2 separate regions of the Homo sapiens genome follow, and region 1 is linked to region 2. The links come from fine-mapping of genetic effects on gene expression. A gene starts in region 2. The other region holds a variant in brackets. All regions are shown on one strand. Distances are from middle to middle. Region 1 has its middle 17 kb from the start of BLOC1S3. Region 2 holds the start of EXOC3L2 (exocyst complex component 3 like 2).

Region 1 (15,525 bases), 46 kb before region 2:
TTTTTAATTTTTTAATTTTTTGTGGGTACATAGTAGATGTATATATTTATGGGGTACATTATGAGATGTTTTGATACAGGCATGCAATATGTAACAATTACAACATAGAAAATGGGGTATCCACTCCCTCAAGCATTTACTCTATGTTACAATCCAATTACACATTTTTTTTTGAGAGAGAGCCTCACTCTGTCGCCCAGGCTGGAGTGCAGCAGCGTGATCTCAGCTCACTGCAACCTCTGCCTCCTGGGTTCAAGCAATTCTCCTGCCTCGGCCTCCCGAGTAGCTGGGATTACAAGTGTATGCCACTATGTCCGACTAATTTTTGTATTTTTAGTAGAGTCAAGGTTTCACCATGTTGGCCAGGCTGGTCTCGAACTCCCAACCTCAGGTGATCTGCCTGCCTCAGCCTCCCAGAGTGCTGGGATTATAGGCATGAGCCACCGCAACTGGTCAATTACACCCTTTTCGTTATTTTTTTTCTTTTTAATAGAGATAGTCTCTGCCATGTTGACCAGGCTTGTACAGAACTCTTGGCCTCAAGCAGTCCCCCATCTCAGCCTCCCAAAGTGCTGGGATTACAGGTGTGAGCCACAGCGCCCGGCTTCTTTTAGTTACTTTAAAATGTACAACTAGTCACCCGGATGTGCTGTCAAATAGTAGATCTTATTCATTCTTTCTAATTATTATTATTATTATTATTATTATTATTATTATTATTTGAGACAGAGTTTCACTCTTGTTGCCCAGGCTGGAGTGCAATGGTGCATTCTTGGCTCATTGCAACCTGTGACTCCCTTGTTCAAGCAATTCTCCTGCCTCAGCCTCCCAAGTAGCTGGGATTACAGGCACGCGCCCCCATGCCTGGCTAATTTTTTATATTTAGTAGAGACGGGGTTTCACCACGTTGGTCAGACTGGTCTCGAACTCCTGACCTCAGGTGATCCACCCACCTTGGCCTCCCAAGGTGCTGGGATTACAGGCATGAGCCAACACTCCCAGCCTATTATTATTATTACTATTTTGAGGCAGAGTCTTGCTCTGTTGCCCAGGCTGGGGTGCAGTGGCGTGATCTCTGCTCACTGCAACCTCTGCCTCTGCCCAGCTAATTTTTGTATTTGTAGTAGAGATGGGGTTTCACCATGTTGGCCTGGCTAGTCTCAAACTCCTGACCTCAGGTGATCCTCCCGCCTTGGGCTCCCAAAGTGCTGGGATTACAGGCATGAGTCACTGTGCCCGGCTGTTCTTTCTAATTATTATTTTTGTACCCATTAACCATCCATCCCCTCCTCTGCCACCTCCCCAACCCCACTGGCTAATTTTTATATTTTTAATAGAGATAAGGTTTCACCATGTTGGCCAGCCTCGTCTCAAACTCCTGACCTCAAGTGATCCACACACCTTGGCCTCCCAAAGTGCTGGGATTACAAGTATGTGCCACTGCACCCAGCCAGAGCGCCATTGAATGTTATTTGTTACTTCTGTCTTGCTGCTTTTAGGATTCTTTCTTTATCCTTGACCTTTGGGAGTTTGATTATTAAAGGACTTGAGGTAGTCTTCTTTTTTTTTTTTTTCTTTTTTTGAGACGGAGTTTCGCTCTTGTTGCCCAGGCTGGAGTGTAATGGTGCGATCTCACCTCACCACAACCTCTACCTCCCAGGTTCAAGTGATTCTCCTGCCTAAGCCTCCCGAATAGCTGAGATTATAGGCATGTGCCACCAAGCCTGGCTTTTTTTTTTTTTTTTTTGGTATTTTTTAGTAGAGATGGGGTTTCTCCATGTTGGCCAGGCTGGTCTCAAACTCCCGATCTCAGGTGATCCGCCCGCCCAAAGTGTTGGGATTACAGGCGTGAGCCACCACGCCCGGCAGGTAGTCTTCTTTGGGTTAAATCTGCTTGGTGTTCTATAACCTTCTTACATTTGAATACCGATATCCTTCTGTAGATTTGGGAAGTTCTGTGTTATTATTCCTTTAGATAAACCTTCTACCTCTGTCTCTCTCTACCTCCTCTTTAAGTCCAGTAATTCTTAGATTTGTCCTTTTGAGGCTATTTTCTAGATTTTGTAGGTATGCTTTATTCTTTTATCTTTTGTCTCCTCTGTGTATTTTCAAATAGCCTTTCTTCAAGTTCACTAATTATTTCTTTTTTTTTCTTTTTCTAAGATAGAGAAAGGGGTCTTGCTATGTAACCTGGCCTCGTCTCAAGCTCCTAGGCTCCAGTGACCCTCCTGCCTTGGCCTCCCAAAGTACTGGGATTACAGGCATCAGTCACCATGCCCAGCCACTAATTTTTTCTTCTGCTTGATTAATTCTGCTGGTGAGAGACTCTGATGCATTCTTTAGTTTGTCAATTGAATTTTTCAACTCCAGAACTTCTGCCTGATTCTTTTAATTATTTCAATCTCTTTGTTTAATTTATCTGATAGAATTCTGAATTTCTTCTGTGTTATCTTGAATTTTGTTGAGTTTCCTCAAAACAGACCCCTCCTTCTCTCTCTCTCTCTCTCTCCCCCACCCATATATATAGTTTTTGTTTGTTTGTTTCTTGTTGAGACAAGATCTGGCTCTATCACCCAGGCTGGAGTGCAGTGCCACAGTCTTGGCTTACTGCAACCTCCACCTCCTGCGCTCTAACCATCCTCTCACCTTAGCCTCCTGAGTAGCTGGGACCACAGGTGCACACTACCATGCCTGGCCAATTTTTGTATTTTTTTTGTAGAAACGGGGTTTTGCCATGTTGCCCAGGCTGGTCTCGAACTCTTGAGCTCAAGTGATCTGCCCACCTCAGCCTCCCAAAATGCTGGGATTACAGGCGCCAGCCACTGCACCCAACCCCAGAACAGCTAATCAATTATCTGTCTGAAAGGTCACGTATCTCTGTCTCTCTATGATTGGTCACTGATGCTTTTATTTTATTTTATTTTATTTTATTTTATTTTATTTTATTTTATTTTTTGAGAGAGAGTCTTGCTCTGTCGCCCAGGCTGGAGTGCAGTGGCGCAATCTCGGCTCACTGCAAGCTCTGCCTCCCAGGTTCACGCCATTCTCCTGCCTCAGCCTCCTGAGTAGCTGGGACCACAGGCACCCGACACCACGCCCGGCTAATTTTTTGTTTTTTTAGTAGAGACGGGGTTTCACCATGTTAGTCAGGATGGTCTCGATCTCCTGACCTCACGATCCGCCCGCCTCGGCCTCCCAAAGTGCTGGGATTACAGGCGTGAGCCACCACACCCAGCCTAGTTTATTTTTTATTTTATTTTTTTATTTTTTTTGAGACAGAGTTTTGCTCTTGTTGCCCAGGCTGGAGTGCAATGGCACGATCTCGGCTCACCACAACCTCCGCCTCCCTGGTTGAAGCGATTCTCATGCCTCAGCCTCCCGAGTAGCTGGGATTACAGGCATGCACCACCACGCCCAGCTAATTTTGTATTTTTAGTGAGATAGGGTTTCTCCATGTTGGTCAGGCTGGTCTTGAACTCCCAACCTCAGGTGATCTGCCCGCCTCGGCCTCCCAAAGTGCTGGTATTACAGGCATGAGCCACTGTGCCCGGCCGGCTTTATTTAGTTTCTGTGGTGAGGTCATGTTTTCCTGGATGGTTTTGTTACCTGAGGATGTTCATACATTTCTGGGCACTGAAGAGTTAGGTATTTATTATAGTCTTCACAGTCTGGGCTTGTCTGTACTCATCCTTCTTTGGAAGGCTTTCCAGGTATTGAAAAGACTTTTGTGTTGCGATCTAAGTCTTTAGTCACTGCAGCTGTATCTGCATCAGGGGGCACCCCAAGCCCAGGAATGCCGTGGCCCTTGGAGACTTGTAGAGACACTGCCTTGGTGGTCTTGGATAAGATCTGGAAGAATTCTCTGGATTATCAGGCAGAGATTCTTGTCTTCTTCCTTTTCTCCCAAACAAATGGAGTCTCTCTGTGCTGAGCTGCCTGGAGCTGGGGGAAGGGTGATACAAGCACTGCTGTGGCCACCAGTGCTGGGACTGTGCTGGGTCAGACGTGTAGCCAGCCCAACACGGGGTCTCCCCCAAGGCCCGTGGTCAGCACTGCCTGGGTACCACCTATGTCCACTGAAGGCCCTAGGGCTCTGTGAGGAGCAGACGGCAAATCCAGCCAGGCTTGTGTTCATCCTTTCAGTGTGGTGTGAGCCCCCCATCACAGGTGCGCCCAGAGATGCCATCTGGGAGCCAGGGCCTGGAGTTGGAAACCTTAGGGACTCTACCTGGTACTCTGTTCTACTGTGGCTGAGCTGGCACACAAGCCACAAGACAAAATCTTCCCCACTCTTTTTTCTGCAAGCAGGGGAGCCTCTCCCTGTGGCCACCACTGCCCCAGGACCATGGCAGCTACTGCTTGGCTACTGCCGGTGTTCATTTAAGGACCAAGGTCTCTTCAGTCAGCTTGTGTGAAGGCTGCCAGGCCTGGGTCTCTCCCTTCAGGGCAGTGGGCTCCCCTCTGGCCAAAGGTAGGTCCAGAAATGACATCCAAGAGCCAAGGCCTGGAATCAGGGACCCCCAAGAGCCAACTTGGTGCTCTACTCCACTGTGGCCGAGCTGGTAACTAAGCTGCCAGACAAAGGCCCCTTTACTCTTCCCTCCCGCTTCCTTGAGCAGTAGGAGCCTCTCCCCGTAGTCACCACGTCAGGGAATATGCTGGGTCATATCTGAAGTCAGTGTGTCTCTGAGTCTCACTCAAGGCCCACACGGAGTACTGCCTGGGTACTGCTGCTGATTATTCAAGGGTCCTTTAGTCAGCAGGTAATGAATCCTGCCTGGACTGGGCTATTTCCTTCAAGGCAGCAGTTTCTTTTCTGGCCCAGATGTTTCTAGAAATCGCCTTGAAGCTAGAGCCTGGAATGGGGCCCTCAGGACCCTGCTTGGTGCGCTATCCTACGGTGGCTGAGCTGATATCCAAGGTGCAAAACAAAGACCTCTTTATTCTTCCCGCTTATCTCCTCCAGTGTGAGGAAGACATTTCAAGCCAGGCGTGGTGGCTCACGCCTGTAATCCCAGCACTCTGGGAGGCTGAGGCAGGCAGATCACCTGAGGTCAGGAGTTCGAGACCAGCCTGACCAACACGGTGAAACCCCGTGTCTACTAAACATACAAAATTAGCCGGGTGTTGTGGCACACGCGTGTAATCCCAGCTACTCAGGAGGCTGAGGCAGGAGAATACTTGAACCCAGGAGGCGGAGGTTGCTGTGAGCCGAGATCACTCCATTGCACTCCAGCCTGGGCAACAAGAGCAAAACTCCGTCTCAAAAAAAAAAAAAAAAAAAAAAAAAAAAGAGACTATTTTTGCTACCCCGTTCAGTGGCTCTTTCAGTGATATGAAGTTAAAACCAGGTACTGTGTTCGCTCACCTGATTTTGGTTCTTATGAAGTGCTTTTTTGTGTGGATAGTTGTTCAGCTGGTTGTTCTTCTGAAGGAGATGATTACTGGAGGCTTCTATTCAGCCATCTTCCCCTGCCTCCTCATAATTGCTATCTCTTTATTGATTTTCTCATGTTGTTTGTATATTGGTTGTATATCATTTTCCTGATTTCCATTTATTCTTTGTCTATGGTTTCCTTTAGCTCATAAAGCATATTTAAGACAGTCGATGATGTCTGTGACTAGTAATTCCAATGTCTGTGCTTCCTCAGAGATGGTCTCTGTCAAAAGAACTTTTTTTTACTATAAATAAGCCATACTTGCCCGTTTCTTTGTATGTTTTGTAGTATTTTTGTTGAAAATTGGACTTTTGGAGTATTATAATATGTTAATTATTGAAATTGGATTCACCCTTTCCTTGGAGATTGCTGGGTTTTGCTTGTCAAGGGCTAGAGCCATCTGTTTGACTTTTTAAAACTGTTTTTGCAAAATGTGTATTCCTTTTGCTGTGTAGTCACTGAAGTTTCTATTCCATTTTTTCTGTTTTTTTTTTGTTGTTGTTGTTTTTGTTTTTGAGATGGAGTCTTGCCCTGTCGCCCAGGCTGGAGTGCAGTGGTGTGATCTCGGCTCACTGCAAGCTCCTCCTCCCAGGTTCATGCCATTCTCCTGCCTCAGCCTCCTGAGTAGCCGGGACTACAGGCACCCACCACCACGCCCAGCTAATTTTTTTGTATTTTTAGTAGAGAAGGGGTTTCACCGTGTTAGCCAGGATGGTCTCGATCTCCTGACCTCACGATCCGCCCTCCTTGGCCTCCCAAAGTGCTGGGATTACAGGTGTGAGCCACCGCGCCTGGCCTTTTTTTTTTTTTTTTTTTTTTTTTAATGAGATGGAGTCTCACTTTGTCGCCCAGGCTAGAGTGCAGTGGCACGATCTCAGCTCACTGCAACCTCTGCCTCCCAGGTTCAAGCAATTCTCCTGCCTCAGCCTCCCAAGTAGCTGGGATTTTAGGCCTGTGCCACCATGTCTGCCTAATTTTTGTATTTTTAGTAGAGATGGGGTTTCACCATATTGGTCAGGCTGGTCTCGAACTCCTAACCTCAGGTGATCCACCTGCCTCAGCCTCCCAAAGTGCTGGGATTACAGGCATGAGCCACCGCGCCCAGCCAATTTCTCAGGTATTTATTTATAGCAGTATAAAAACAGACTAATACACCCGCGATCGTTCCATTTATTTCCCTCTTGTTTATTATGAGCACATATGTGTTCCAAAAGACAGTGTGCTTAGATAAATTGTTTGTACCTTCAAACTAGACACAATCTAAATGTCAATCCATTGGTGACTGGGTAAGTAAAGCATGCTACATTCATACAACAGACATTATAGCAATGAACACGAATGACCTTCTGCTGTACACAACATGAATGTATCTCACAAGCATAATGTTCCACCAACAAAGCCAGAGCACATACCGTATGATTCCACTTATCTCCAGTCAGAACCAGGCAAAACCATGCTAGGGGTGTTGAAGGTCAGGACAGCAGTTAATTGGGGAGGAGGCAAGGGGTAATGACTGCATGAAGGGTTGCATCTGAGCCACTGTCAATATTGTATTTCTTCATAGGGGTGGAAATTAAAGATTTGTGTTCACACTAAAAATTTGTGAACTCTGGTATGTGTGTTATACTTTTTTTTTTTTTTTTGAGATGGAGTTTCGCTCTTGTTGCCCAGGCTGGAGTGCAATGACATGATCTCAGCTCACTGCAATCTCCGCCTCCCAGTTCAAGCGAGTCTCCTGCCCCAGCCTCCCGGTAGATGGGATTACAGGCATGCGCCAGCACGTAGTAGAGATGGGGTTTCTGCATGTTGGTCAGGCTGGGCTTGAACTCCTGACCTCGTGTGATCCACCCACCTCTGCCTCCCAAAGTGCTGGGATTACAGGTGTGAGCCACCGCGCCTGGCCAATTTTTTATTCTTTTTGAGGCAGGGTCTCACTCTGCCACCTTCCTAAGGTGCGGTGGCATGGTCATGGCTAACTGTAGCCTAGACCTCCTGGGCTCAGGCAGTCCTCCCACCTCAGCCACCCGAGTAGCTGGGACTACAGGTTCACACCACCATGCCCAGTTACTTTTTGTAATTTTACCAGAGACGGGGTTTTGGAATGTTGCCCAGGCTGGTCTTGAACTCCTGCACTCAAGTGATCCGCCCACTTTGGCCTCCCAAAGTGTTGGGATTATAGGCATGAGCCACAGGGCCCAGCCACAAATGTATATTTAATTTACATGGAAGCCTACTGTTCTCCTCCCTCCCTCCTTCCCTCCCTCCCTCCCTCCCTCCCTCTCTCCCTTCCTCCCTCCTTCCTTCCTTCCTCAGAGTTTCTCTCTTGTTGGCCAGGCTGGAGTGCAATGGCATGACCTCAGTGCACTGCAATCTCCGCCTCCTGGCTTCAAGTGATTCTCCTGCCTCAGCCTCCCGAGTAGCTGGGACTATAGGTGTGCACCACCACGCTTGGCTAATTTTTGTGTTTTTAGTAGAGACAAGGTTTCACCATGTTGGCCAGGCTGGTCTCGACCTCCCAACTTCAGGTGATCCACCCGCCTTGGCCTCCCAAAGTGGTGGGATTACGGGCGTGAGCCACCGTGCCCAGCCTGCCTTTTTCAAGTAGTCATATGTCTTGGAGAGCATTCTAATCAGAATGAAAAACAGCTGAGCCATTCTGTTTACTTATACGGTGAC[C/T]AAGCCATCTGCTAGTCATTCCCCTATTGATGATCATTCAGGGTGTTCCCTATTGTTTGTGACTACATATGGTGTGGCAAAGAATATCTTTGAATATATTCATTTCCCACATGTATGGGTATCTTGGAAAGAAACACATTTCCAGATGTGGAGTTGTTGGGTCAAAGGGTGAGTACATTTTAAATTCTGTTAGGTGCTACTTTATTTTTTAATTTTTTATTTTTTTTTGAGACAGGATCTCATTCTGTTGCCCAGGCATGGTGGCACATGCCTATGATCCCAGCTACTTGGGTGGCTGAAGCTCGAGAATTGCTTGAGCCCAGGAGATGGAGGTTGCAGTGAGCTGAGATCGCACCAGTGCAGTCTAGCCTGGGTGACATAGCGAGACTCTGTCTCAAATATAATGCAACATGGTGTCCATGGTCCAGGTGAGGCTGAGCTAGGAGGTCTGAGGTCAGGGTAGGTCTGACCCCTCTGGGTGGTCCTCAGTGTCCCACAGCACTGAGCCTGCCAAGGAGGAGGTGCTAGGGGAATATTCCTGAGGGAATTTAGGGAGATGGGAGTGAATTTGATGAGCAGGAGGCAGGGGTCTTTGGGTAAGTGAGAGAATTGAAAAGGAAAAAACTCTTAGCCGGGAGCGGTGGCTCACGCCTGTAATCCTAGCACTTTGGGAGGCCGAGGCGGGTGGATCATAAGGTCAGGAGATCAAGACCATCCTGGCTAACACGGTGAAACCCTGTCTCTACTAAAAATACTAAAAATACAAAAAATTAGCCAGGCATGGTGGCGGGTGCCTGTAGTCCCAGCTACGTGGGAGGCTGAGGCAGGAGAATGGCGTGAACCTGGGAGGCAGAGCTTGCAGTGAGCCGAGATGGGGCCACTGCACTCCAGCCTGGGCAACAGAGCAAGACTGTCTCAAAAAAAAAAAAAATCAATTTTAGGAAAGTGTCTGAGAGAGATCAGTGACTCAGAAGAGTTTGAGTGGGGAAGTGCTCAGAAGCCATGGCTTCTTGCAGGGGGTATGGTCCCACAGGGGCCCACGGGGTTTCCTGGGCACAGGGACCCAAGTGGGACCTCAGCAGGTGGGTGGGATGCTGGGAGTGGAGGGGGCTGAGGGGTGTTCTTTCCTTTACTCCCTTATGGCTGCAGTGAGCTATGATCGTGCCACTGCACTCCAGCCTGGGTGACACAGTGAGACCTTATCTCAAAAAAAGAAAAAGAAGTCCAGGTGCGGTGGCTCACACCTGTAATCCTAGCACTTTGGGAGACCAAGGTGGGAAGATTTGCTAGAGCTCAGGAGTTCAAGACCAGCCTGGGCAACATGGCGAAACCCTGTCTCTACAAAGTAAACAAAAATTAGCTGGGTGTGGTGGCAGGTGCCTGTAATTCCAGCTACCCAGGAGGCTGAGGCATGAGAATCACTTGAACCCGGGAGGTGGAGTTTGCAGTAAGCTGAGATTGTGCCACTGCACTCCAGCCTGGGCAATGGAGTGAGACTCTGTCTCAACAACAACCACCAAAAAAAAAGAAGAAGAAGAAAAAGAATAAAAAAGAAGATTTAGAGGCTGGGTGTGGTGGCTCCCCCTGTGATCCTAGCACGTTGGGAGGCCGAGGCGGGTGGATCACCTGAGGTCAGGAGTTCAAGACCAGCCTGGCCAACATGGTGAAACCCCGTCTCCACTAAAATACAAAAATTAGCCAGGCATGATGGTGGGTGCCTGTAATCCCAGCTACTCAGGAGGCTGAAACAGGAGAATTGCTTGAACCTGGGAGATGGTGGTTGCAGTGACCCAAGATTGCACCACTGCACTCCAGCCTGGGTGGCTGAGCGAGACTCCGTCTCAAAAAAAAAAAAAAAAAAAAAAAAAGATCTAGAAAGGAGAGTTAGGGAGTCCATGAAAAATCTCTAGCCAGCCCTCCTGAAGCACTAGACAGGGGAACAAGTCAGAGTTTGCAGGAAAATCTGGGAAGTCAGGCATATCCAACTATCAGAGTCATGGAAGGCTGTTGCCTCTGCATCTGATGTTGAGCCCGAGGTCACTGGTGGTTAGCAGGGCAGAAAATTGAGAAGAGATAAACAGGAGTGTGGGGGAAACAAGGTCCCGAACACTTGCATCTGTCTCACCCTGCAGGGCAGAGCGAGAGCAAATGGGAACCCCCTAATGCATCTACATCTGTCTTTTCCCCCATCTAAATAGAGCAACCGTCCAAGAAAAATACTGTGCTAAACTTCTTTCTTCCAGTTTTCATGCAATTTTCTCCTTTGGCCAACTCTAACTTAGAACCATATGGGGAAGGGGTTTTTTTGTTTGTTTGTTTTGTTTTGTTTTCAGAGTCTTGCTTTGTTGCCCAGGCTCTGGAGTGCAGTGGTGCGAGCTCGGCTCACTGCAACCTCCGCCTCCCAGGTTCAAGCAATTCTCCTGCCTCAGCCTCCCAAGTAGCTGGGATTACAGGCACCCGCCACCACGCTCAGCTAACTTTTTTGTATTTTTAGTAGAGACAAGGTTTCGCCATGTTGGCCAGGCTGGTCTTGAACTCCTGACCTCAGGTGATCCACCTGTCTCAGCCTCCCAAAGTGCTGGGATTACAGGCGTGAGCCGCCGCACCCAGCCAACTTCATCACTTTCAATATGTCGTGCCACTCTATCCTAGCCTGTGAGGTTTCCACTGAAGTCTGCTGCCAGACGTATTGGAGCTCCATTGTATGTTTGTTTTTGTTTTTGTTTTTGAGACAGAGTCTCACTCAGTCACCCAGGCTGGAGTACAGTGACGAAATCTCGGCTCACTGCAACCTGCACCTCCCAGGTTCAAGCGATTCTCGTGCCTCAGCCTCCCGAGTAGCTGGGATTACAGGTGTGAGCCACTGCGCCTGGCCTCATGCCTGGCTAATTTTTTTTGTATTTTTAGTCGAGACGGGATTTCACCATGTTGCCCAGACTGGTCTGTAACTCCTGGCCTCAAGTGATTCACCCGCCTCAGCCTCCCTAAATGCTGGGGATTACAGACGTGAACCACTGCACACGGCCTCCATTGTAAGTTATTTGTTACTTTTCTCTTGCTGCTTTTAGGACCCTTTCTTTATCCCTGATCTTTGGGAGTTTGATTATTAAATGCCTTGAAGGTAGTCTTTGGGTTAAATCTGCCTAGTGTTCTATAACCTTCTCGTATTTGAATATTGATATCTTTTTCTAGGTTTGGAAAGTTCTCTGTTATTATCCCACTTAATAAACTTTCTATTCCAATCTCTCTACTTTCTCTTTACGGCCAATAAAACTCAGATTTTTCCTTTTTGTGGCTATTTTCTAGATCTTGTAGGTGTGCCTTATTCTTTTTTTTTTTTTTTTTTTTTTTTTGAGATGGAGTCTTGCTCTGTCTCCAGGCTGGAGCACAGTGGCACGATCTTGGCTCACTGCAACCTCCGCCTCCCGGGTTCAAGCAATTCCCCTGCCTCAGCCTCCCGAGTAGCTGGGATTACAGGTGCCTGCCACTACACCTGGCTAATTTTTTGTATTTTGGTAGAGATGGGGTTTCACCATGTTGGCCAGGATGGTCTCAAACTCCTGACCTCGTGATCCGCTTGCCTCGGCCTCCCAAAGTGCTGGGATTACAGGTGTGAGCCACTGCGCCTGGCCTTTATTCTTTTTTATTTTTTCTTTTGTCTCCTCTGGCTGTGTCTTGTCCTGTCTCATCTCTTTTCTCTTCTCTTCTGTTCTCTTCTGTTCTCTTCTCTTCTGTTCTCTTCTCTTCTTTCTTCTCTTCTCTTCTCCTCCTCTCCTCTCCTCTCTTCTCTTCTCTTTTTGAGACAGAGTCTCACTTTGTCGACCAGGCTGGAGTGCAGTGGTGCTGCAATCTTGGCTCACTACAACCTCCACTTCCTGCGTTCAATCAATTCTGGAGCCTCAGCCTCCTGAGTAGCTGGGATTACAGGCATGCACCACCATGCCCAGCTAATTTTTCTATTTTTAGTAGAGACAGGATTTCACTATGTTGGCCAAACTAGTCTCAAACTCCTGACCTCAGGTGATCCAACCACTTCAGCCTTTCAAAGTGCTGGGATTACAGGTATGAGCCACTGTGCCCGGCCTGACTGCATATTTTCAAATAGCCTGTCTTTGAGCTCACCAATTCTTCAGGTTGATCAATTCTACTGTTCAGAGACTGATGCATTCTTCAGTGTGTCAGTTGAATTTTTTCTACTTAATTTTTTTTTTTTTTTTTGAGACGGAGTCTCGCTGTGTCGCCCAGGCTGGGGTGCAGTGACACGATCTCCGCTCACTGCAAGCTCCACCTCCCGAGTTCATGCCATCCTCCTGCCTCAGCCTTCCGAGTAGCTGGGACTACAGGCGCCTACCACCACGCCTGGCTAATTTTTTTGTATTTTTAGTAGAGATGGGGTTTCACCGTGTTAGCCAGGATGGTCTTGATCTCATGACCTCGTGATCCACCTGCCTCGGCCTCCCGAAATGCTGGGATTACAGGTGTGAGACACCGTGCCCAGCCCCTTTCTGCTTAATTTTTAAAAATTATTTCAATCTGTTTGGTTAATTTATCCGATAGGATTCTGAATCCCTTCTCTGTGTTATCTTGAATTTCATTGAGCTTCCTCAAAACAGCTGTTTTGAATTCTCCGTCTGAAAGGTCACATAGCTCTGTCACAATGGGGTTGGTCACTGGAGCCTTGTTTAGTTCACTTGGTGAGGTCATGTTTTCCTGGATGGTGTCAATGCTTGTGGATGTTCGTCAATGGCTGGGCATTGATGAGTTCAGTGTTTATTGTAGTCTTTGTAGTCTGAGCTTATTTGAACCCATCCTTCTTGGGAAGGCTTGCCAGGAAATTGAGTGTTGTGAACTAAACTTTTGGTCACTGCAGCTGTATCTGCATTAGGGGGCACCCCAGGCTCAGTAATGCTGTGATTCTTGCAGCATCTTAGAGGTGCTGGCCAGGCGCAGTGGCTCACGCCTGTAATCCCAGCACATTGGGCAGCCTAGGCAGGCGGATCATCTGAGGTCGGGAGTTTGAGACCAGCCTGGCCAACATGGTGAAACCCTGTCTCTACCAAAAAATACAAAAATTTGCCAGGCGTAGGGGTGGGCGCCTGTAGTCCCAGCTACTTGGGAGGCTGAGGCGGGAGAATCACTTGCGCATGGGAGGTGGAGGTTGCACTGAGTGGAGATTGCAGCACTGCATTCCAGCCTGGGCGACAGAGTAAGACCCTGTCTCAAAAAAAAAAAAAAAAGGAATCTTAGAGGTACTGCCTCAGTGGTCTTGGTTAAGATTCAGGAGAATTCCCTAAATTACCAGGCAGAAACTCTTCTCTTCCCTTACTTTCTCCAAACAAACGCAGTCTCTCTATCTCTGTACGGAGCTGCCTGGGGCTGCTGGAGGGGTGACACAAGTACCCTTGTGGCCACCACCACTGGGACTGCACTGGGTCAGACCCAAAGCCAACACACCACTAGGTCTCACCCAGGGCCCGTGGCAACCACTACCTGGCTTCCACCAATGTTCACACAAGGCCCAAGGGCTCTTCGGCCAGCAGGTGGTGAAGCCTGCCGGGCTTGTGTCCTTCCCTTCAGGATGGTGAGTTCTCTCCTGGCCCAGGGCAGGTCCAGAAATGCCATCTGGGAGCCAGGGCCTGGAGACAGAAACCTTAGGAATCTACCTGGTGCTCTATTCTACTGTGGCTGAGCTGGCACCCAAGCCACAAGAAAAAGTCTTTCCTACTTGATATGGTTTGGCTGTGTCCCACCCAAATCTCATCTTGATTTGTAGCTCCCATAATTCCCCTATGTTATAGGGGGTACCCAGTGGGAGATAAGTGAGTCATGGGGGCAGTTTCCCCCATACTGTTCTTGTGGTATTGAATAAGTCTCATGAGATCTGATGGCTTTATAAGGGGAAACCCCTTTGGCTTGGTTCTCATTCTGTCTTGCCTGCCACCATGTAAGACGTGCCTTTTGGCCAGGCATGGCAGCTCACGCCTGTAATCCCAGCACTTTGGGAGGCCGAGGCGGGTGGATCATGAGGTCAGGAGATCGAGACCATCCTGGCTAACATGGTGAAACCCCGTCTCTACTAAAAACTACAAAAAATTAGCTGGGCGCCTGTAATCCCAGCTACTCTGGAGGCTGAGGCAGGAGAATGGCGTGAACCCGGGAGGCAGAGCTTGCAGTTAGCCCAGACTGTGCCACTGCACTCCAGCCTGGGTGACAGAGTGAGACTCCATCTAAAAAAAAAAAAAAAAAAAAAAAAAAAGACGTGCCTTTCAGCTTCTGCCATGATTGTGAGGCCTCCCCAGCCACGTGGAACTGGGAGTTCATTAAGCCTCTTTTTCTTTATTAATTACCCAGTCTCAGGTATGTCTTTATCAGCAGCATGAAAACAGACTAATACACCACTCTTCCCTCACTTTTCCTCACACAGGAGTCTCTCTCTGTGGCCACCACTGCTCCAGGCCCATGGCAGGTACTGCCTGGCTACTGCTGATGTTCACTCAAGGCCCAGGCCCTCTTCAGTCAGCTTGTGGTGAGTGCTGCCAGGCCTGGGTCTTTTCCTTCAGGGAAGACAGCTCCCCTCTAGCCCAGGGCAGGTCCAGAAATGCTGTGCAAGAGCCAAGACCTCAATTGGGGATGCCAGCAGCTGCTGGGTGCTCTACCCTACTGTGGCCAAGCTGGTGTCCAAGATGCAAGACAAAGTCTCCTTTACTCTTTCCTCTCCTTTCCTCAAGCAGGAGTCTTTCCCCAGGGCCACCACAGCTGGGAATGCGCTGGGTCACACCTGAAATCAGCACGGCACTGGGTCTCACCCAAGGCCTGCGGCGAGCACTCTCTGGCAACCACTGATGTTTATTCAAGGCCCAAGAGATCTTTAGTCAGCAAGTAATGAATCCTGCCAGGACTGGGTCCTTCCTTTCAAGGCAGCGGCTTCCCTTCTGGTCCAGGGTGTGTCCAAAAATGTCATCCAGGAGTTAGGGCCTGGAATGGGGGCCTCAGGACTCCGCCTGGTGCCCTATCCTCCTATGGCTGAGCTGGTATCCAAGTTGCAAAACAAAGACCTCTTGACTTTTCGTCTCCTCTTCTCAAGCAGAAGGAAGGAGTCTCTCCCGGAACTGCAAGCTATACTGCCTGGGGTTTGGGGCTCGGGGGCTCAAGCACTCCCTTGGCTGCCTCAGCCAATGTCTCAGTGGGCCTCATGCCCTCCAGGTCCACTTGTTCTGAGCCCAGCAAGGCACCAGGACTTGCCCAGAAATTGCAGTCCTTGTGGCCTGACTGCCTTTCAAGTTTATTTATTTATTTATTTATTTATTTATTTGAGATGGAGTCTTGCTGTTGTCCGGGCTGGAGTGCAATGACGTGCTCTCGGCTCACTGCAATCTCTGCCTCTTGGGTTCAAGCGATTCTCCTGCCTCAG
Region 2 (15,525 bases):
CTAAAATTGTAGAACTGGAAGAGTCAATGGTGCCAATAGGTTCTAGGTCTGAAAGGGTGGGAATGCTAGGATTCTAAGACTGGAAGCATCAGTGTTACTTAGATGCTAGGAGTGTAACTGTCGATGATGCTAAGGTTGTATGTAGGTCTAGAAGAATGAATGGTGTTGAGATTTTAGGAACGGAAAAGTAGCAACGCAAAGGTTCTAGGACTAGAGGAATCAATGGTGCTAAGATTCGGGGACTGGAAGGGTGGACAGCGAGGCGATCTAGAGTGTAAGTGTTGACAGAGCGCTGAGGTTTTTGGACCACAGTGGTGCCGGAGCTCTTATTCTAGGACTGCAAGCGTCCATGGTACTAAGGTGCTGGAACCGGAAGCCTCGGTAGCAGTGAGAGTCTAGGATTGTAACTGTCAGCGGTGCTGACGACTGGATGGGTTAATGGTGTTAAAGTGCTAGGACTGTAGGGTCAGCTGTCCCAAGGTCCTTAAGGTCTGAAGAAGCCAGTGCTAGGGGGTAGGGCTGAGGGTTTCACGTGACCTTGGGCAACTGAGTCCAGCTTACCTGGGGTAGACCTGATTGTGCCAGTGCAGCAGCGCGTAGCGGTCGGCCAGCGGCAGCCTGCGACGGGCGGAGGCCCCCAGCCACTCGGCCAGGGCCCCGTGGTAGCCGCGCAGGTAGACGCCGAAGGCGCCCAGGCCGGCGGGGTAGGCGGGCGCCAGGCGGCCCCGCACCACGGCCATATCCTCCAGCAGCCGCGCCCGCAGCGCCTCCAGCTGCCCGGCCAGGCCCCCGGGCGCCCCGGGAGCCGCTGCCTCTAGGCGCTCCCGGGCCGCGCGCGCCACGGCTTCGGCCCAGCGTGCGCGTAGTTTGCGGGCCGCCCCGGGACCCCGACGCCCGTCGGCCGCCTCCTCCTGTACCAGCACCTGGCCCAGCTGCGCCACCGCGCCAGCCCCGGCGCACGCTCCCGGCCCGGGGCCCGCCAGCGTCTCGCGCACCAGCGCCCACAGCTCGCGCTGCAGGGCCTCGTACAGCAGCGCCACGTCCCGCGCCCGGCGGCCCCCGCCAGCGCCCTCGGCCTTGGGAGGCCCAGGCGCGCCGCCCCTCGACGGCGCCAGCTCCTCGGCCTCTAGCTCCAGGATGTGCTCGTCCGCACGCGCTAGTTCGCGCTGCTGGATCAGGCTCAGGATCTCCAGCACTGCGGGAGCAAAGCGGGAGGTCAGCAGTGCGCGGGGGGGAGGAGGGCGATGCCGGACGCGGGGTTGGGGGTGCTTAGGAAGGGGAGAGAGATGAGGGGAAAAGGGTTACAGGAGGCGGGAAAGTGTGGGGGCAGAGAAGAGCCCGGAGAAGAGCAAGAAAGAAGGATGTTGAGTGAAGGATGTAGGGGAGGGGTCAGGGTGAGGGGCTCATGCTTGTAATCCTAGCACTTTGGGAGGCCGAGGCCGGCGGATCACTTGAGGTCAGGAGTTCAAGACCAGCCTGGCCAACATGGCAAAACCTCGTCTCTACTAAAAATACAAAAATTAGCCAGGCGTAGTGGCGTACACCTATAATCCCAGCTACTCGAGAGGCAGGAGAATCGCTTGAACCCGGAAGGCAGAGGTTGCAGTGAGCCGAGATCGCGCCACTGCACCCCAGCCTGGGCAACATGTTGAGCGAGACTCTATCTCAAAAATAAATAAATAAAAAAGAGAGAGGGGGAAAAGAAAAATGCCTGTGACTGAGGAGGGGATCTGGGGAGGTTGCAGGGCGGAAAAATGGAGGAGGGGTCGGAGGAGGCGAGAAGGTTGAGAGAGGAGCCACGTAAGGGGGAGAGAGATGGAGGCAGCCGGTGGGAGTAGGAGGGGCAGGGTGGTGACTTGGAGATGGGGAGAGGATATGGGACCACTGATGGGGTCTTTTTGGGGTGGGGATGGCTGTGGGCTGATCTGGCCCTCTGATGAGTTCAGACTGCCTCGAGAAAGGCGAGTCGGGCTGGAAGGCCTCTGAGGCTGAAGGAGGGTCCTGGCAGCCCAGGGTTACCCTCGACACCTCCACCCCCCTCCACTTCCTCCCTGGCAGAGAAACTATTTCCTGGCCAGCGCTATTTCTGCCCATCCGTTTCCAGAAGGCGGGGCTCTAGTCACCCCCTCCTCACCTCCCTCCAGTGCCCTCCCAGTCCCCAGGGAGCTGGGGCTGAAATAGCCTCTGGCCAGAACGTGGAGGGCATCAGAGGACAGAAAAGGCTCTCCTGAGGTCCCCAGCCCTGGAGCAGTTCGGGCCTCGGGGCTAAAAGCCGGGCTCAGGCACGGGAGCAGAGATAAAGGCAGGGTTGGGGGTGGCGGTGAATTAAGATGGGGATTGGGACACGGATGGGGATAGGGCCGGAGGTGAGGATGGGGTGAAGGTGGGGGTTGGGATGAGGGAGTTTAGGGTTAGGATGAGGTCAGGTGGGAGTCTGGACAGAAATGGGAAAGAGGCAAGAATGACATTGGGGTCTGGGTAGGGATGAGGTTGGAGAGGTGGGGGAGGGGAATGTAGGTGAAAGCTGAGGATGGAAAGGACATAAAGATTGATGTGAAGGCCGAGTGCGGTGGCTCATGCCTGTACTCCTAGCACTTTGGAAGGTGGGCGGATCACCTGAGGTCAGGAGTTCAAGACCAGACTGACCAATATGGTGAAACCTGGTCTCTACTAAAAATACAAAAATTAGCCAGGCATGGTGGTGCATTCCTGTAGTCCCAGCTACTCAGGAGGCTGAGACAGGAGAATTGCTTGAACCCAGGCGGCGAAGGCTGCAATGAACTGAGATCTTGCCATTGCACTCCAGCCTGGATGACAGAGCTAGACTCCATCTCAAAAAAAAAAAAAAAAAAAAAAAAGATTGATGTGAGTTTGAAGATGAATTGTGGAAGTGAGTTGGGCTTGGGAATAGGAACATGGATGGAATTGAAAATGGAGGTTGGGGATGGGGGTTTAGGACTGGGACTCAGGATAGGGGTGAAGATAGATTAGGGATGAAGAGGAGGTTGCGTTTGGAGTTGGAATTGAAACTGGGGGCTGAGGAAGAACTAGGAACTCAAATAGGACTGAATAAGGAGGTTGATGGCCAGGTGCGGTGACTCATGCTTGTAATCCCAGCACTTTGGGAGGCTGAGGCGGGTGGATCACCTGAGATCAGGAGTTCAAGACCAGCCTGGCCAACATGGCAAAACCCCATCTCTACAAAAAATACAAAAAAAATTTAGCCAGGCATGGATGGTGATGCATGCCTGTAATCCCAGCTACTCAGGAGGTTGAGACAGGAGAATCGCTTGAACCCAGGAAGCGGAGGTTGCAGTGAGCTGAGATTGTACCATTGCACTCTAGCCTGGGCAACAGAGTGAGACCCTGTCTCAAAGGAAAAAAAAAAAAAAAGGAGGTCGCCAGAGGGAAATGGGTGGAAGGTGGGTGCTGAGAGGGGCCTGGGGTTGGGGGTTAAGAGTGAGACCAAAAGAGTTTAAAAGGGTGGAAGGTGAACATGGGGAAGAATGGGATATGAAACGGGGCTGGACCAGTTGGGGGTTGCCATGGTGTTGGACATAGACAATGACATTAAAGATGGCGTTTAGGCCAGGCGCAGTGGCTCATGCCTGTCATTCCAGCACTTTGAGAAGCTGAGGCAGGAGGATTACTTGAAGCCAGGAGTTCAAGACCAACTTGAGCAACATAGCGAGACCCCCATCTCTACAAAAAATGTGAAAATTAGCCAGGTGTGATCATATGTGCCTGTAGTCCCAGCTACTCTGGTGGCTAAGGTGGGAGGATTGCTTGAGCCCAGGAGGTCAGGGCTGCAGAGAGCCATGATTGCACCACTGCACTCTAGCCTCTAGCCTGAGTGATAGAGCGAGACCTTGTCTCCAAAACTAGATGGCATTTGGAGGAAAGGATGAGCTGTACGAGAAGCATACGGATGTGTCTCAGATAGAGACTGATGGTGGGCTTGGAATAAGTGTGGGGTGAGAACAGAAAAGGCACTGAGGAAGACACTGGGGCTTGGAGTAGGAATGGGGACTGAGGATGAAGACAGGGTGGTGTTAGGGATTGAATTACGTCCCCCCAGAAAAAAAAAAGATATGTGAAGTCTTCACCCCAGTACATCAGAATGTCACCTGATTTGGAAATAGGGTCTTTACAGAGGCAATCAAATTAAAGTGAGATCATAGGGCAGACCCGAATCCCATGTGAGTGGTGTCCTCATAAAAAGGAGAAATTGGCCACACGCCGTGGCTCAAGCCTGTAATCCCAACATTTTGGGAGGACGAGGCAGGCAGATCACTTGAGGTCAGGAGTTTGAGACCAGCCTGGCCAACATGATGAAACCTTACCTCTACTAAAGTACAAAAATTATCCAGGTGGCACATGCCTGTAATATCAGCTACTCGGGAGGCTGAGGCAGGAGAATTGTTTGAACCCCAGAGGCAGAGGATGCAGTGAGCCAAGATTGCACCACTGCACTCCAGCCTGGGCGACAGAGGCAAAAAAATAATAATAATAAAATAAATAAAATAAAGAAATTGAAGAAATTGGGGATAGAAAGAGAAGGGGGAGAGATGGGACCAAAATCAGGTATTCCCTTGGCTTTAGACATGGGAGTAGGGCTGAAGACGGCAGGTGGAGGAGGCAAAGATTGAGGGTGGGCATATATTAACAGGTGGCACTGAAGAGAAAGGTTGACGACAGGGATTAGGACTGCAGTGGTAATGGGTTGGAGCTGGCATGGAGGTGGGAGATGTGAGTTAGACATGTGAATTGCAGGTCGGGGTCACAGGTGGTAGCTGGGATGGGCTTAAGTATGAAGCCTGGGACCACCAGGGCTGGGGATGGACATGGGCACTGGGATTCTCCCAGGACAGGGTCAGGGCTCCGGACTCACCTGACAATGGCTCCTTCATCTTTGGGGGCTCTGGGACCTTGGGTGGGGGCTCTGGAGCTGCCTCGCCTGCAGGCACCACTCTCTCAGCCAGGGACGCACGCTGGGGCTTGGATCCACGCCCCAGTCTCAGGAAGGCCAGTCTCCGGGCGGCCTCCCCCGCTGCCTCCTCGTCGCCGTGGGCTCGGGTCCCATGCAGCCGGGCCAGGAGGCCAAAATCTGCTGAGCTCCTGCGTATCCCTGGTACCAGCACACGGCCCAAGAAAGAGCGGGGCTGCCCATCCCCAGGGCTGCCTGCCCGCCGGCCCGGGGCCCAGCCCAGCCGGAAGGGGGCCAGGCCCGCAAGCTTCTCCAGGGTGGCGCGGCGGCGACAAGATGTTCCATTGGGGAGGGACCCCAGCTCCCCGGCCTCTTCTTCCTCCAGCCCTGAAACTTCTTCAAAGGGGTTCCGAGAGGACCTCAGGGGCAGGGTCCCCGCCCGGGGCACCTTAGGGTCTGACACTCCCAGATTCTTCAGGATAGGCATTTTGACAGGTGGGGACCTGGGGAAAAAAATAATGACCATGGGCGATGCTGATGACAATGGTGGTATGGATGACGGTGCCTCTGTGTACCGAGCACTTTGGGGTGAGCGTACCAGACACTTGCCTGAGCACTTAATAAGCCCTTGATCTGCACAAGCTTATAAGATGGGGACTTTTTTTTTTTTTTTTTTTGAGACGGGGTCTCGCTCTGTCGCCCAGGCTGGAGTGCAGTGGCACGATCTCAGCTCACTGCAAGCTCCGCCTCCCGGGTTCACGCGATTCTCCTGCCTCAGCCTCCTGAGTAGCTGGGACTACAGGCGCCCACCACCACGCCCGGCTAACTTTTGTATTTTTAGTAGAGACGGGGTTTCACTGTGTGAGCCAAGATGGTCTCGATCTCCTGACTTTGTGATCCACCTGCCTCGGCCTCCCAAAGTGCTGGGATTACAGGCGTGAGCCACCGCGCCTTGCCTCTTTTTTTTTTTTCTTTTGAGATGGAGTCTCACTCACTCTGTCACCCAGGCTGGAGTGCAGTGGCACGATCTCGGCTCACTGCAACCTCCGCCTCCCAGGTTCAAGCAAGTCTCCTGCCTCAGCCTCCGGAGTAGCTGGGACTACAGGCGCGCGCCACCACACAAGGCTAAGTTTTATATTTTTAGTAGATATGTGGTTTCACCATGTTGGCCAGGCTGGTCTTGAACTCCTGACTCAGGCGATCCACCTACTTCAGCCTCCCAAAGTGCTGGGATTACAAGAGTGAGCCACCTCTGCTGGCCTGGAATATTCTCTATCTTAAGTTGATCCTCCTACTCCGTGGAGAAACAGGCTGAGAGGGGGGAAGGCTCCCTCCCAAGATGACACAGTCAGTCAAGGGCAGAGATGATATGGGGACTCAGGCCCTACCATCCACCCAGACGTCCAGGGCAGACTCCTGAGCACCTGCCTACACCCCCTCATCCCCTTCATTTCTCCTGTTTGATTTGTACCCTTGTCATCTCTCCCTCATTCATCTCTTCAGCAAAAACTTATTGGGAAATGTCTAGAATAGGCAAAGCCTAATTTTTTTTTTTTTTTTTTTTGAGACTGGGACTCACCCTGTCACCCAGGCTGGAGTGCAATGGCCCCATCATAGTTCACTGCAGCCTGAAACTCCTGGGCTCAAATGATCCTCGTACCTCAGCCTCCTCAGCAGCTGGGACTACAGGTGTGTACCACCATGCCCACTTAATTAATTAATTAATTTATTTATTTATTTATTGAGACAGGGTCTTGCTATGTTGCCCAGGCTGGTCTCAAACTCCTGGCCTCAAGGGATCTATCCACTTCTGCCTCCCAAAGTGCTGGGATTACAGGTGCAAATCACCTCGCAGGTCTCTAGGCAAATCCTTAGAGACAGAAAGGAGACTGACAATAGGACTGGAGAGAACGGGGAATGGCGAGTGGCTGCTAATGGATGCAGGGTTTCCTTTTGGGGAAAGGAAGACACTCTGGAACTAGATAAAGGTGATGGTTGTACAACACTGTGAATGCATTAAGTGCCACTTAATTGTATGCTTTTAAAATGGCTTAAGGCCAGGCGTGGTCGCTCATGCCTGTAATCCCAGCACTTTGGGAGGTGGAGGCAGGCAGATCACCTGAGGTCAGGAGTTCGAGACCAGCTTGGCCAACATGGTGAAACCCCGTCTCTACTAAAAATAAAAAAAGTAAAAAATTAGCCGGGCGTGGTGGCATGCACCTGTAATCCCAGCTACTCGGGAGGCTGAGGCAGGAGAATTGTTTGAACCCAGGAGGCAGAAGTTGCGGTGAGCTGAGATCACACCACCGCATTCTGGCCTGGGCAATAGAGCAAGACTCAGTCTCAAAAAATAAAATAAAACAAAACAACTTACTAGGTATTAGCCATGGGCCCAGCCCTGTGCAGGCGTTAGGGACACAGCAGTGGCCAGGGCAGCCCCCATCCCTGCCATTACAGCTTCCTGAGTCCTGCCCATTCCATCTCCTAAGCCTCTCTTCAGTCTGCGCTCCCTCCTTTCACTCACTTCCCATAGCCCCTACCCCAAGCGGAACCCTTGCCCACTTCCCTGCCCTGGCCTCCTCCCTGGTCCCCAGCCTCTAGTCTTGGCACCTCCAGTCCGCCTTTGAGGACCTTGAAAAAGCGCAAACCAGGCCGGGTGCAGTGGCTCACGCCTGTAATCCCAGCACTTTGGGAGGCCGAGGCGGGCGGATCACAAGGTCAGGAGATCGAGATCATGGTGAAACCTCGTCTCTACTAAAAATACAAAAAATTAGCTGGGTGCAGTGGCAGGCGCCTGTAGCCCCAGCTACTCGGGAGGCTGAGGCAGGAGAATGGCATGAACGCGGAAGGCGGAGATTGCAGTGAGCTGAGATCGCGCCACTGCACTCCAGCCTGGGCGACAGAGCAAGACTCCATCTCAAAAAAAAAAAAAAAAAAAGAAAAGAAAAAGCACAAACCTGCTCTTCTCCATCTCCTAAGCCTTCCATGGCTCCCTAGTATCTTCAGGACAAAGCTGAGGCCTCTCACCACAGCCTTCATGCTCTGGCAGCTGCACACGTCACTAGTGCTGTCCCGTAGCCTCCTCCTTACCCCAGGAACCTCCAGGTTTCAGCATCTGCTGGTGCTTCTACATAGACGCCTGTTCTCCATGCTCCAGTCAGGACTTCAGGACTCACACTTCAGGACTCAGCCCCATGCCCCCTCCTCCAGGAAGCCCTCTGTGACCCTCAGGCTCCCAGTCCCTGGGTTCCCACACCTCACCTCTGCCTGCTCTGGGTCATCCCTGTCTGGGGACAGATCTGTGTCCCTTACTGGACTGCAAACCTCAGCAGGACAGGGCTGGGGCTGTCTCAGTCACCACTGTGTCCCCAGCTCCCAGCACAGGGCAGACACTCAGGGAATGGGTGCTAAACAGGAAATGAAGGAAGGAAAGTGGCAAGACAGTTCATTCCTTGTGTGGGGAGGAGGAGGGTGAGTCGAGCTGGAAGAGGTCACTAGGGAGCAGGCCACGCAGGGCTTTAAGTTCCTTGATAAGGGACAGGCTTTCTTCCAAGAGCCCTGCAGAGCCACAGATAGGTGCTTTTTAAAACAATGAAATAGTTCAAACATTCGGAAAAGTACAGAAGACAAGCTTAATAAACACTTCTGTGCCTACAATCCTAGCCACAGCTCACACAATCATTTGCTCTCTTAGTTCAGGTTTTTGTTGTTGCTTTTGTCTTTAGAGACAGGATCTCACTCTGTTGCCCAGGCTGGAGTGCAGAGGCGTGATCATGGCTGGCTGCAGCCTTGAACTCCTGGGCTCAAGCGATCCTCCCACCTCAGCCTCCCAAGCAACGGGGACATCCTGCTAATTTTATTGTTTAATTTTTTGTTATAGATGGGGTCTCGCTATATTGCCCATGCTGGTCTGGAACTCCTGCTCCTGGCCTCAAGCAATCCTCCCTCCTCGGCCTCCCAAAGTACTAGAATTACAGGCGTGAGCCACCATCCACTGCCCTGATTTTTGTTTTAAAGAACAAGCCAGGCGCAGTGGCTCACGCCTATAATCCCAGCACTTTGGGAGGCCGAGGAGGGAGGATCACCTGAGGTCAGGAGTTTGAGACAAACCTGGCAAACATGGTGAAACCCTGCCTCTACTAAAAACACAAAAATTAGCTGGGTGTGGTGGCGGGTGCCTGTAGTCCTAGCTACTTGGGAGGTTGAGGCAGGAGAATCACTTGAACCCAGGAGGCGGATGCTGCAGTGAGCCCAGACTGTGCCACTGCACTCCAGCCTAGGCAACAGAGCGAAACTCCATCTCAAAAAAAAAAAAAAAAAAAAAGAATTACAAATGCGTGCAGCCTCCTCCTGCCACCTCTCCTGGTCCCACTCGCTCTGGCCTTCTCCTAAGGAATCCAGCATCCAGAATGAATGTGCTGTTTACCCGTCCAAGTAGATTTTTATCCCATGCTCCATAGACTTGTATCCAGAAATAATATACTGTTCTACATGGTTTCAAACTCTCTATAAATGGTATCATACTATTTGTATCTTGCAACTTGCTTTAAAATTTATTTTTTTGCTCACGTTATGAACTTGTGAGAATTTATCCATGTCTAGCCATACAGCTCCAGTTCATTTAAGTGCTATGTAATATTCCACTATATGAATTGTGTAAAGGGTCAGATGTTCACTTGTTCTTCTATTGCTGGACGTGTAGCTTGTTTGTCACCACGACAGGGTTCTGAGCAGGTCAGGACAGGGTCAGGATTATGCAGACGTGCGGGGGTGGACAGGAGGCCTGGGAAGAGGGTGGTGTGCAAAAGGCCTGGGTTGCCTAGGTTATGAGTAAGAGCACCCCTTTCCATGATGGGGAGGCCCCTTCTTTCTTTCCCTGTTTCAACCCCTGAGCTGCTGCTTCTCAACCCTCCAGTTCCTAGAAACGCTCTCGGACCTCCTTCCGGTCTCCATGGGCCCCCGCCCCCACAGGAGGCAGTCACCATGACGACCCCTTGCCTGGAGCCCCCATGGCTGTGTGCAATAGATACTCCCCCATGCACACACATTATTTGCACACTCATTTCTCTTCTATTTTATTTTATTTTTTCAGATGGAGTCTCGCTCTGTCACCCAGGCTGGAGTGCAATGGCGCGATTTCAGCTCACTGCACCTCCACCTCCAGGGTTCAAGCGATTTCTCCTGCCTCAGCCTCCCAAGTAGCTGGGACTACAGGTGCCCACCACCACGCCTGGCTAATTTTTGTATTTTTAGTACAGATGGGGTTTCACCATATTGGCCAGGCTGGTCTCGAACTCCTGACCTTGTGATCCGCCTGTTTCAGCCTCCCAAAGTGCTGGGATTACAGGTGTGAGCCACCGCACTCTGTCCTTCTCTTTTATTTTTTAGACAGTCTCACTCTGTCACCCAGGTTGGAGTGCAGTGGCATGGTCTCGGCTCACTGCAACCTCTGCTTCCCAGGCTCAAGCAATCCTCCCACCTCAACCTCCCGAGTAGCTGGGAGTACAAGTGCAAGTCACCACACCTGGCTAATTTTTGTATTTTTAGTAGAGATGAGGTTTCGCCCTGTTGCCCAGGTTGGTCAACTCCTGAGTTCAAGCGATCCACCTGCCCCAGCCTCCCAAAGTGCTGGGATTACAGTCATGAGCCACCACACCCAGCCTTGATTTCTCTTTCATCCTCTGAACTGGCATCCACATGCCTCATCCCAAAATGGCTCCATCATCCCCCCTCCACCCCATAACTGTCTCCATCTTCCTCTCAAAATTTCAGGCTCGAATTTCCCTCCAATTGAAGTCAACCTTGCCCGGACTACATCTGACTTTCCCCCACCTGGCTTCAATATCGCCTCCAAACTGGATCCAACATCCCCAAACCTGGCTGCAACATTTTCCCAAAACTGTCTCCGACGTCTTTCCCCTTCCTGGCTCCAACACCCGCCTCTGCAAACTGGTGCTGACATCCTGCCCCCTCCAACCCTCTGTCTGCCTCCCAGTGCCCAGCCCCTGACTCACTTCCGAGGCATCCCTCAAGCCCCCAGCCTCTCAGGCCCGCAGGATGTCTTGGCCACCAGAGCTTCCCTCTTTGAGCCCCTCCTCCTCTTCCTCACTGCCAGCCTTTTCCCCGGAGTCCCTAACCTTCTGCAGCGGCCCTGACCTCGGTTTGCGGAATCCATCACCTCCAACGCTCAGCATCTGTATTAGAGAACGGTCTTTCCATATGGCATGTCCCCAAGCCCAACCCCAACCAGTGCAACCCCAATCTAGTCCTTGACCCCAAACACAATCCTGTCATCAGCCCAGACCACTGCAAGCTCATCCACATCTCCAATCCCAACCTGATCTCGGTCTCTCCTGCTTGATCTCAATCCCTACCTGGTCCCTGTCTCCCATCTCCGAGACCCCATCTCTTGGGATAGAACAAATACCCGATCCTTCCTGGCCTCAGTCTTCCCGCCCAGACTCGCAGGACATTCGACCCAATGTCATCTCATCTCTATTCTCCTTTGGTGGCACCAAGGTTTCTAATGCTCCCTTGCACCCTTTGTGGACCCCGCGAGTCCTCAAATTCTCCCCTGCACCCTCCTCTCATTTTCATCTCCTTTCTGCCTTCTCGCCAGCACCCCTCTGGAGTCAGGCCCCAGATTCTCTCTTTGCCCCCAGCCTCTGCTGGGTTCAAGGTACAGGTTCTCATCAGCTCTGGTCCAGTGCAACTAAGGGCAACTGTTTTCCCAGTTGCCCTGGGGAAGGGGGACCCCTTCCCCCTGTCCCCAGCACACTCACCTCTGTCCTCCTGCCCGTCCTTCTGTTCCCGCTGCTGTCCTGTCCCCAGGCTACTTCAGCCAGGACTGCTGGGAGCTTGGATCTGAGTTGGGGGGGTGCTCGGAGGAGGACAATTTCCTGTCAGGAAACCCCTCCCTCTCTGGGGCCAGGGGCGGGAAGGACTCATTATCTGTCTGCCCTTTTAGGCCAGGCTGCGGTTGGGCTGGGAAGGCCGAGGCCCACAGCTGGGCCCCCACCCTCACCCCCGCTCCAGGCCGGAATCCGCCCACTCCTGCATGCTCTTCACGCCTCCCAAGGTGACAACACCATCCTGGGCGCCCCGGGGAGACACCCCAAGCTGGACGCCAGCCCAGAGCTGCTCTCCAGCATGGGCAAGCCCCGAGGCCTTAGAATGAGAACCGGGGGGCAGGCACGCATCTCTCTAGAGTTCCCTGCCACGGGCTGAAGACCAGGAGGGAAGTTTTGCTGGGCCCAGGGGCTGGGGAGGGGGACCTATGGAGGAGGGCACTGGACATGGCTTTGGAATTGTGGTTCTCTTTGTCTAGAAGCCCCTGTACCCAGGTCTCTGCATGAGGCCCTCCTTTTCATCATCCCAGTTCCAGCCCCACAGTCTCTTCCTCTGTTCTCCACTGTCCCGTCTCACAGAGTCGTCACTCTGCTTTGTCAATTTATTTTTCTTTTTTTTTTTCCTGAGACAGAGTCTTGCTCTGTTGCCCAGGCTGGAGTGCAGTGGCGTAACAATAGCTTACTGCAGCCTGGATCTCCCAGACTCAAGAGATCCTCCCACCTCAGCTTCCTGAGTAGCTGGGACTACAGGCATGCACCACCATGCCCAGCTAATTTTTGTATTTTTTGTAGAGACACGGGTCTCATTAGGTTCTCCAGGCTGGTCTCAAACTCCTGGCCTCAAGCCATCCTCCTGCCTCGGCTTCCCAAAGTGCTGGGATTACAGGCGTAAGCCACTGTGCCCAGCCTGTCAATTTCTTTATTGCACCTTCTACAATCTGAAATTATCAGATGCAACTGGATTCCTTGCAGATAAACTCAGCAAAGCTCACTTTGTTGATCCTGTTCATCTTTATAAGCCTAGCTGCGTGCCTGGCCCTCAGTAGTCAAGATTTAAATGAATTTAAATGAAGCTGAGGGTTGGAGGTGGGTTTGGAGATGGACTTCCTGCTAGAGTTGGGATGCCAAGTGAAGTGAGGGCTGGGGCTGGAGCTGGTGCTGGGTGGGGTTGGGTATGAGAGTCAGGGTTACTTTAAAAGGCTAGGGCCATGTGTGGTGGCTCATGCCTGTAATTCCAGCACTTTGGGAGCCAAGGCAGGGGGATTGCTTGAGCCCAGGAGATCAAGACCAGCCTGATAATATAGCAAGACCCCGTCTCTACAAAAAAAAAAATTTTTTTAATTAGCCAAGTGTGGTGGCACGCTGTAGTCCTAGTTACTAAGGGAGCTGAAGTGGGAGGATCACTTGATCCTGGGAGGTGGAGGCTGCAGTGAGCCATGATCTCGCCACTGCGCTCCAGCCTGGGTGACAGAGAGAGACCCTGTCTCAAAAATTAAGAAAAAAAAAATTTTTTTTAAATAAATAAAACTGGGCTGGTTGCAGTGGCTTATGCCTATAATCCCAGCACTTTGGGAGGCCAAGGTGGGTGGATCGCTTGAGGTCAGAAGTTTGAGACCAGCCTGGCCAAACTGATGAAACCCTGCCTCTACTAAAAACACAAAAATTAGCCAGGTGTGGTGGTGCATACCTGTAATCCCAGCTACTCGGGAGGCTGAGACGGAAGAAATCGATTGAACCCAGGAGGCAGAGGTTGCGGTGAGCCGAGATTGTGCCACTGCACTCTCCGGCCTGTGAGACAGAGTGAGACTCCATCTCAAATAAACAAACAAACAAATAAATAAATAAGATAAACTGTGTTCAAGTGCTCAGGCACAGCCTGAGGGGGATGCGTGATCACTGGCCTAGGCAAAGTCCAGGCTGGGATCAGGGTTGGGGTCAACATTAGGATCGGGGGCTGGGCTTAGGGATCACAGCTCCCTCCTGGATCCAAGGGTTAAGATTCAAAGGTCTGAATGCCCCAGTTGAAGGAATGAATTCACCAGACATAGGTTGTGGAGGAAGGGCTAGCTGGATGACCAGGTCGGGAGGCAGAGGAACAGGCCTTGCCCCCCAGCTCGGCCTCTGCACCGCGGACCCATGGTCAGCAGTGGCCCATCATGTACTGGGATCGTGCAGGATTTCCACCCCGCCTTATTTATTTATTTATTTATTTATTTATTTAGAGACGGAGTCTTGCTCTGTCGCCAGGCTGGAGTGCAGTGGCGTGATCTCTGCTCACTGCAACCTCCGCCTCCTGGGTTCAAGCAATTCTTCTGCCTCAGCCTCCCGAGTAGCTGGGACGCAGGCGCTTGCCACCTGCAAGCGCCCGGCTAATTTTTTGTATTTTTTTTAGTAGAGACAGGTTTTCACTGTGTTAGCCAGGATGATCTCGATCTCCTGACCTCGTGATCTGCCCGCCTCGGCCTCCCAAAGGGCTGGGATTACAGGCGTGAGCCACCGTGCCCGTCCCCCTCCTTTTTAAAAATTATTTTTTTTATTTTGATTTAGAGACAGGGTCTCACTATGTTGCCCAGGCTGGTCTCGAACTCCTGGGCTCAAGTGATCCTCCCGTTCTGGCCTCCCAAAGTACGGGGATTACAGGTGTGAGTCACCGCGTCCAGCCCCCTTTTTAAATTTTATTATTATTTTTTATTGAAATACAATTCACATACATAAGAGTCACCCTTTTCAAACAGAGTCCGGTAGGTTTTAGTATATTCACAAGGTTGCAGCAAGCGTCACCACTATTTAATTCCAGAACATTCTCATCACCCCAAAAAGAAACCTGGTACCCATCAGCAGTCATTTCTCATTCCCCAGCCTCCAACCCCTGGCAACCATTAATCTACTTTCTGTCTATGGATTTGCCAATTCTGAATATTTCATATGAATGGAAGCATACAGTAAGTGGTCTTTTGCGTCTGACTTCTTTCGCTAAACATGCTGTTTTCTTTTTTTCTTTTTTGAGACGGATTCTCACTCTGCCGCCCAGGCTGGAGTGCAGTGGCGCGATCTCAGCTCACTGCCAGCTCCGCTTCCCGGGTTCACGCCATTCTCCTGCCTCAGCCTCCTGAGTAGCTGGGACTACAGGCGCCCGCCACCGCGCCCGGCTAATTTTTTGTATTTTTAGTAGAGACGGGGTTTCACCGTGGTCTCGATCTCCTGACCTCGTGATCCGCCCGCCTCGGCCTCCCAAAGTGCTGGGATTACAGGCGTGAGCCACCGCGCCCGGCCACATGCTGTTTTCAAGGTTCATCCACTTTGCAGCCTCCCTCTCTGTAAGCCTCGGTCCCCCCACATCTGGGAAATGGGGTGGGGACGCTGTTGGGGAAGGGAGGGCAGGGGTGGACCCTGGAGTGTGTGGGGCGCGTGTAGGGAGGTGATCGGCTGCCCCCGTGTGGTGCACGGTAGAACTGCAGCTCTCAGCGCCAATGCAGGGAACGGGTTGGGGGCGCTCAGCCCCTCTAGCCTACCCCCAAGACCCCCACTTTCACCCTGCGGCGTCCCTGGGATCACAGTACGTCTAGAACACTACCCCGGAACTCCACCCTCTCTGCCACTGTCCCTGAGGCTCCTCGGGCCATATTTGCCAAATAGTAATAATAATGTCCCCACATATGAATTTTGAATCTGGTCCCCTGTGAAGCACTTTACTCAAAGATTCTCATTTATTTGTTAGCAGTAACATTAAAATAACAAATAAATATAAAC

Evidence for each region. PIP is the estimated chance that this variant, and not a neighbour inherited with it, causes the effect. A credible set is the group of variants that fine-mapping cannot tell apart.
Region 1: its variant is the best candidate, but not a certain one, in a credible set for the expression of EXOC3L2 in whole blood (INTERVAL, PIP 0.88).

The regions. Positions count from the first base shown.
Region 1 is chr19:45,187,868-45,203,392 of GRCh38, forward strand. It overlaps a transcript of BLOC1S3 not described here. Among named protein-coding and RNA genes, the nearest start is that of BLOC1S3, 17 kb to the left of the region's middle. The variant C/T (reference allele first, on the strand shown) is at 8,115.
Region 2 is chr19:45,233,632-45,249,156 of GRCh38, forward strand. EXOC3L2 (exocyst complex component 3 like 2) reads right to left here and starts at 11,776. Exons shown (of 12, transcript NM_001382422.1): 1 at 11,710-11,776; 2 at 4,892-5,430; 3 at 562-1,195. The coding sequence starts at 5,414. It also overlaps the pseudogene LOC100420902. RefSeq lists an enhancer at 11,470-12,466.